Linked DNA regions of Homo sapiens. The protein of the gene in region 1 purifies or fractionates together with the protein of each later gene. This does not show direct contact. Each region holds a gene or a part of one and is shown on either strand. Other genes may lie near its edges.

Region 1 (3,756 bases):
GTGTGTTATGCCCATTTTACTGATAAAGAAGCTGAGGCACAGAGAGGTTGGGTAACTTGCTCAAGATCACACAGCAACAACTAACTGGCAGATCTGGGATTCCCACTCAGAGAAGCTTCTGCTTCCTCTTCCTTCCAGGAATCAAGGAAATTTCCCACTAAGAAAGGAGCTTTAGCTTTCCTACGATGAAAGGAAGCAGGCAGGGCACTGGGAGATGGAAAGAAGCCAAAGTGAGAGCCAGTTAACATAAACTCAGGCAATGCCTGTTATTAAATTGCAGAGGCTGAGCCAGGTGCAGGGTCCTCATGCTGGGCTCATGAATGGAATGAACATGGTCTTGGTCTTTGAATAGCTCACAGCTCATGTAGAGAAATACTCTAACAAATCATTGCAAACCTGTGTGACTCGTTATAGTTTGAGGTTACCAAGACCACTGTCAGACTCAATAATTTGCTAGAAGAACTCTTAGAATCAAAGAATCTGTTACACTCAGCGTTATCGTTTATCACAGTGAAAGGATACAGATTAAAATCAGCCAAGGGAAGAGGCGCCTGAGGCAGGGCTCAGGAGACAGTAGGTGTGAGCTTCCAACTGTCCTGTCCCAGTGGAGTTATGCAGACAGCACTTCATTATCCCAGCAACGAAGTGGGACAACACACATGAGGAACTGCCAACTAGGGAAGTTCCCCCAAGCCTTGGCATCCAGAGTGTTCGTGGGGACTTGGCCACGTACATGTGGCTGACCATAAATCACACTGTTAGCATAGGCGATCTGGCATGGCCCAAGTGCCCCAGGGAAAAAAATCTCTTATCAGGCAAGGTGTTCCAAAGGCTTCGAAGTCATCTCCCAGGAGCCGGGGAAAAGGCGAAACCTTTCTTTGGGCAGGGTTAATCCTTTACTGCACACGTGTGCTAATCAGAAAGATGGAAGATGGAGAGTGGTGTCTCAAAGGATGGAGGCATCACCTCTGCTGGAAGCTACGGCTCTTCCCTCTGTCCCCGTCTTCCTGAGGGCCACGGGGGCACCACAGAAGGATTCTGAGTTCGGGAGTGGCCTGTCGGACCTGGGTACCCCACTGGTGGTCAGTAAGAATTGACAGGGAGGTAGGGAGACCTGTCAGAAGGTATAGGAAATGAGGCCCTGACTCAGAGCAGAAGCTGAGGAGATGGAGAGGAGAGGTCAGGTGTGAAAGGGTGAGGGGGTCAGTTATGTCCAGATTGTAAATGCCAAGAAGGCGGGGGCAGTGTCGGGTTTGGCTTGCCATAGGCTACCCGAGGGTCTAATATGGTGTGTGGCTCATAGGAGGTGCTCAATAAATATTTGTGACAATAAATGAATGAATGATGAATGAATGGGAACTGGGTGAGTGACTGGAGAGAAGGAGGGGCCTGGGTAGATGATCTTGTCATCATGGTGTCTCTGTCTTCTCTTCCTGCCCCACTCACCTTCCAGGGCCCCCAGGCCTGGACTCCATCTCAGACCCCTTCAGCTGGAGCTGGATTCCTGGACTGGGGAGAGATCGGGATGCCTGGCTCCCGGGAGAGCTGGCCACCAAGCCCTCTGCAAGTGTGACTGCCAGTGTTCTGGAGAAAACAACCACGAAGGCCCCAGGGAAAATGCCTAAGAGTACTAAGAAGTGGGTGACAAAAAATGCAAAGAGACCAACCACTCAACCCCCAGTGATGCCAACCACGAAACACTCCAGGGCCCAAAGCCCCCCAGACCTAACCTCACAGACCACTGCAGCACTGACCACTGAGGCCTCCCGAAGACCTACCTCTGAGTTTACCAGAAGGCCGACCACGGAGGCCCCCCAGAGATGGACCTCTCACACCACTGCCACGCTGACCCCTCAGGCCCCCCGAGAACGGACCACTAAGACCATGGCAATGCTGACCACTCAAGGCCCCCAAGAAATGACCTCTGAGTCCACTATCAAGAGTATCCCTCAGGCCTCCCTGGAGCCATCTGCTGAGATCCCAGAAGGGTCTCCAGAGTCACCCAAAGACCCGGCCCCCTCTCCCAGTGTTAGCACCACTGGGGAATCAGGTGAGTGGCCGTGAGGGGTGTGGGGAGAGAATGGGAGAGGCTGACCCTCCCTCCTGACCTAAGGGCCTTCCACGCAGGCCTGTTCCGGGTTCGTCTGGCCGATGGGCCCAACCGCTGTGCTGGCCGGCTGGAAGTGTGGCATGCCGGACGCTGGGGAACAGTGTGTGATGACAACTGGGACCTGCGGGACGCCACTGTGGCCTGCTGGGAACTGGGCTGTGGAAAGGTCCGGCCTCGAGTAGGCAAAACCCATTACGGCCCTGGGACTGGGCCCATCTGGCTGGATGACATGGGCTGTAAGGGAAGCGAGGCCTCACTGAGCGACTGCCCCTCGGGGGCTTGGGGGAAGCACAACTGTGACCACGAGGAAGACGTGGGGCTCACCTGCACTGGTACCAGGGCATGGCGGCGGTGGTGGGGTTGTCGGGGGTGGCCAGGAGAATGGAGTCAGGGTGGGGCCAGGTGACGGCACCATGGTCGACTCTAAAGAACTGGGTATGAGGGGTCGGGGTGGGGAGATCCCAGAGTTGCTCCAGAAGATTCCAAAAGGGGAGGGAAGAGCAGCAGCAAGGACCTCTGAGAAAGAGGATGGGGTCAACCATTACCCCAATTTCTCCAAAGGCTACACAGACTATGACGATTATCCCCCCTGGACCTGGGACCCCACCTCAAGAGAGGACCTGGCCAAGGGGACTACCACAGCGGGGGTACCTGGACACACTCTCCCCTGGAGGACCACCCGGCGCCCGGGTAGCTCCTCCCCAGCAATAAGGCGCCTGCCGGACACAGGTGAGAGGCCTGATTGGGGTGGCCATGGAGGGCCTCCATAAACCTCCATTCGCTTCCCTGCAGGGTTTCCAGAAAGACCCTTCTCAATGAGCTGGCTGAGGCCTCGGGGCACCCTGGAAAGGTTTTCCTTGGCTCCTGAGACCCTAAACGCATTACCTCCTTGGGCTCAATGGTGACACTTCTTCAGAGCCAAGGACACCATCTAAGAGATCAGGCTAAGCTCAGCAATCCTGAGCCCATGGCCCTCCTGTAAGCCACACAATATGCAAGCCTGGGGCCCTCAGTCAAACCCACAACCAAGGGCCATTCTGTCATCACATCATCGTCCCCACCCCAGCTCCCCCAGAGCAAGCGAAACCTCACCCATTCTTGAAGCTCACGCTCTGGTCCGGGCCTGGTATGGCTCAGAGGTGGGGACTCCTGGAGTGCAGCTTCTCTCCTTACCCTGGCCATCCCCTCCCTCTGGCCAGCAGAATCAGCCTCCAGGGCCACAGCTCCATCCCCCTCTGCTCTATGGCCTCTGTCTTGCTGCTGCAGCTCCTTCCACACCTGGGACCACGCCCCGCTTTGGCCCCCACATCACTGTCACCACATTCTTCTGCCTTTTTCTTTGCCTGTCTTCCTTGTATCCCCATCTCTCAGGATCCCTGCGAATCCATCTCTGCTCCTGTTTCTCACTTGCTGTTGGTCTCTTTTTTTCATTATCCATTTCTCACCCTCATCATCTCTATCTCTGTATTGCCCAGGATGGAGTGCAGTGGTGTGATCTCAGCTCACTGCAGCCTTGACTGCCCGGGCCCAAGCGATCCTCCTGCCTCAGCTTCCTGAAAAGGTGGGACTACAGATGTGCGCCACCACACCCGGCTCATTTTTAATTTTTGTAGAGACGGGCTCACTATGTTGCCCAGGCTGGTCTC
Region 2 (3,756 bases), on another chromosome or scaffold:
GATGATCAAAAAGCCTATAACAGGCTTGGCCTATTTTCCTATTGGGTTGCTGGGCTTTTTTTTCGTCTTTATTTACTTGTAGAGAGTTTTAGACCTCTGTGTATGTATGGTGTACAAGTGACAATATTCAGATCTGTAAACTGTAACACAGTCTGGGAGCAAAGAAGATATAGAAAAATGACTTTTACTTCCTGCTTGAGTAGTAAAATTGAGATTCAAATTTTGCATATAGAAGTACTATATGGCTAACTTATTTGGGGAGCAAAACTGACTTACCATAAGTCTACCTGAAATAGAAATGAAACACTCAATTTGTGAAATATGCTGAGTTTTAATGTGTGTGGGGGCAAGGTGAATTAACATTTGTGATGCAAGGAGAGGAGCAATCTATACTTACCAGTGTCTATTTGACATTGTTTGGGGACTACTGTTACACTCTAAGTCACTTTACCTTATAACGCAGAGTTGTAACACGCTACTCTGAGCAGCTCATGACATCTGCTTGAAATTTAAGTTGGGCCCCTAATATGTGTTAATTATAAGGACTTTGATGTTGCTTTTCCGAGTTGGGTAACCTACTTTACCCCCTAAGCTAATGTTTCCCAAATACACCCAAACCCACAGAAAGGAAAACTATTCCTCATTAACTTACAGCCAACATCATAAACATTTTATATCTAGAGCTGATGATACAGTCAGGTATTTACCAACACTCATGTATATATGTAGAGTTTCAAGAAATAATTGCTTACCCTTACTAGATGCAACATATTCTAATGTTTGACATATTATTTTTATTTCTTAATTTTTTTTTAAAGATGGGGTTTTACTCTGTTGTCCAGGCTGAAATGCAGTGGCATGACCAGGATTTCGACCAGAAGTTTGACTGCAGCCTCGAACTCCTTATAACAAACAATCCTGCTGCCTTAGCCTCCTGAGTAGCTAGGACTATGGACACATGCCACCAGATCTGGGATATTTTAAAATTTTTGCAGACATAGGGTCTCGCCATGTTGCCCAGGCTGATTCTGAACTCCTGTTCTCAAGCAATCCTCCTGCCTGGTCTTCCCAAACTGTTGGGCTTACAGGTGTGAGTCACTGAGCCCAGCTTGTATTCTTTTGATTTTAAAAAAATATTCTGAATGTGATCCACCAAATTAATTTCACCATCCACTAATAGGTAGCAACCTGAATGAAAAATACTGTTATAAACTTTACACAAAACCAGAGATTATAAACATTTGCCTCCAAGGAGATGAGAGAGGCAAAAGGTACTTGTTTGCTCTGATGGGCCCTGTTTCCTTCAGTGCCAGGAAGAGTGGCTCTCAGATCTTTCTTCTGGCATCCCTCATGTATGCAGTGTTGGTTATTATTTTCAAGGCCTTGGTAACAAAATGCCCCTAGTGTGACCAGTCAGACTGACAGTCCATATCTGTAATATGGTGGTAAGTTTCCTTTGCATGTCTTTCTTTCTTGCATCTTAGACCTTTTACCTAGGAAATTTTCTTTTTGCTTAAAGTACATCATTAAGAATTTTCAATGAAGGCAGATTCTTAAAGTTTTTGTTTTCCAGAAGAGATCTTGGAAAATATAAAAGGTTGGCAGTTATTTCTTTTAGTACATGAGATAGTATTACACCAATGCTGTTGAGAAGTCTATTGTGAGGCAATGTGTCTTCTTTCTCTGGCTGCTTTTGAGATTTCTCTCTGTCTTTTTTAGGGGCAGTTTTACTCTTATGTGACTAGAAGTAGATTTCTTCTTTTTTTTTTAATACTGCTTGAGATTTTATTGGGTTTTTGAATCTGTGGATATCCTTCAACAGTTCTGAAAGATTTCCAGCCATTCTCTTCATATATTATCTGTGCTGTATTCTTTTCTCTCCTTTTAGAACTTCAATTAGTAAAAACATGTTTGATGTCTTTTCCCACTATTGTTTTTTGTTTCTCCCATGCTGAATTCTGTGTAATTTCTTTTGAACTATCTTGTAGTTTACATTCTTTTTTTTTTTTTTTTGAGACAGGGTTTTGCTCTTGTTGCTCGGGCTGGAGTGCAATGGCACCATCTCAGCTCACTGCAACCTCTGCCTCCCGGGTTCAAGCGATTCTCCTACCTCAGCCTCCCAAGTAGCTGGGATTACAGGCATGTGCCACCACGCCCGGCTAATTTTTGTATTCTGAGTAGAGACGGGGTTTCACCATGTTGGCCAGGCTGGTCTAGAACTCCTGGGTGATCTACCCTCCTCAGCCTCCCAAAGTGCTGGATTACAGGTGTGAGCCACCGTGCCAGGCCTTACATTCTCTCTCTTTAAGAGAGAATGTAAGGTATCTAAATCTGCTGCTAAACCATCATTGTTTTTAATTGTAATAAGGTCTCTTTTATGTACTCACATTGATAAGAGACAAGTAGTAAATAATCTTTAAAGGGCAAACTAATTTAAATGTGTTTTCCTGTCTGTTTACAGGACTTAGCAAATGCACATCTTAGAGTTCTGGGTTTCTAATGTGTATCTCCTCTATGAAATTCTTTAAAAATATCTGTTCTTGGTATCCCTTAGGTTAGTCTCTTTTAGAACTTCTAAATCAATGGACCCTTAACTTATAGGAGCCACCTGGACGTTAGCAACATCTACATTAAACATGCTGAGCTTTTAAAAGAGGCCTGTTAGACATGCTGAGTATTTTGAGATAATATCATTGTTGTATTGAAAGCTATTGAAAACTTTAATTTTAAAATGCAAACGTTCTTAAAGTCCTGGTTGATTTTATAACTATAAAATTAGTTATAATTTTGAGATTTCTGTCTTGTTTTTTTATAGGGGCAGTTTTACTCTTAGGTAACTAGATTTCTTCTTTTTTATAATCATAAAATTAGGTTTACTTTTGTTAGAATAAATTAAAGACAGTGAATTTGTAATTTGAATAACTACTAAAAATACACATGATGTATTCTTATTTGGGCCCTTGTGACGAAAATACTATTGTGGCTACAGAAACCTATCCTATAGTTTGAAGAACTGAGATTACTGTCAGTATTGAGAACATTCCTCCTTCATCATTAGAAAGATTATAAAAAACCAGATTCAAAGAAACTATCAATACTACTTATGAAGTATGTCTGTAAAAAAAATTAAGCCTGAATCTTATCAGGCCTCTAGACCAGGGGTTCTCAAGGTATGGGCTCCAGACCAGAAGTATCAGCAACAAATTGCTAAAAATGCAGAGTCTTGGGTCAGAAATTGGGGACCAGCAATTGGAATTTTACTAAGTATACCAGATGATTCAGATGCCTGCTCAATTTTGAGGATGACTCTTATCAGTTTAGTTATTAGGGTTTACAGGGGATGGGGAACATGTTAAAGAACACCAACTAGATAAGGTCAATCAGGCAAAAGTAAGATGTCTGGACATTCTGGGCCTCTTGATGTCTTAGAAAGCACACAATACCATCTATGATGTGTTTTTGTCCACCATCCCACCCAACTGCACCTGGATCTTCCTATTTATAGGCAATTAGAACAAGTTCAGTGTTACCCTGTAATGATTAAAACCCAAATACAGGACTGCTATAGCATAAATGACCACTTTCTTCAATAAGTGGCACATTAAAAATATATTTATATATATAATTGTTATAGATAAAAAAACAACAAAATGGCTGGGCGTGGTGGCTCACACCTGTAATCCCAGCACTTTGGGAGGCCAAGGCGGGCAGATCACAAGGTCAGGAGATTGAGACCATCCTGGCCAACATGGTGAA

The links. The genes of interacting proteins can lie anywhere in the genome.
Region 2: the proteins of SSC5D (region 1) and GCC2 purify together in Homo sapiens (affinity purification with mass spectrometry; 2 studies listed by BioGRID and IntAct, with this or other methods). This does not show direct contact.

What each region holds. Positions count from the first base shown.
Region 1 is NC_000019.10:55,498,363-55,502,118, forward strand, and holds part of SSC5D (soluble scavenger receptor cysteine-rich domain-containing protein SSC5D isoform 1 precursor), read left to right. Parts: intron 1-1,453; coding exon 1,454-2,050; intron 2,051-2,127; coding exon 2,128-2,442; intron 2,443-2,671; coding exon 2,672-2,839; intron 2,840-3,756.
Region 2 is NC_000002.12:108,501,181-108,504,936, reverse strand, and holds part of GCC2 (GRIP and coiled-coil domain-containing protein 2), read right to left. Parts: intron 1-3,756. UniProt on the Homo sapiens protein: Golgin which probably tethers transport vesicles to the trans-Golgi network (TGN) and regulates vesicular transport between the endosomes and the Golgi.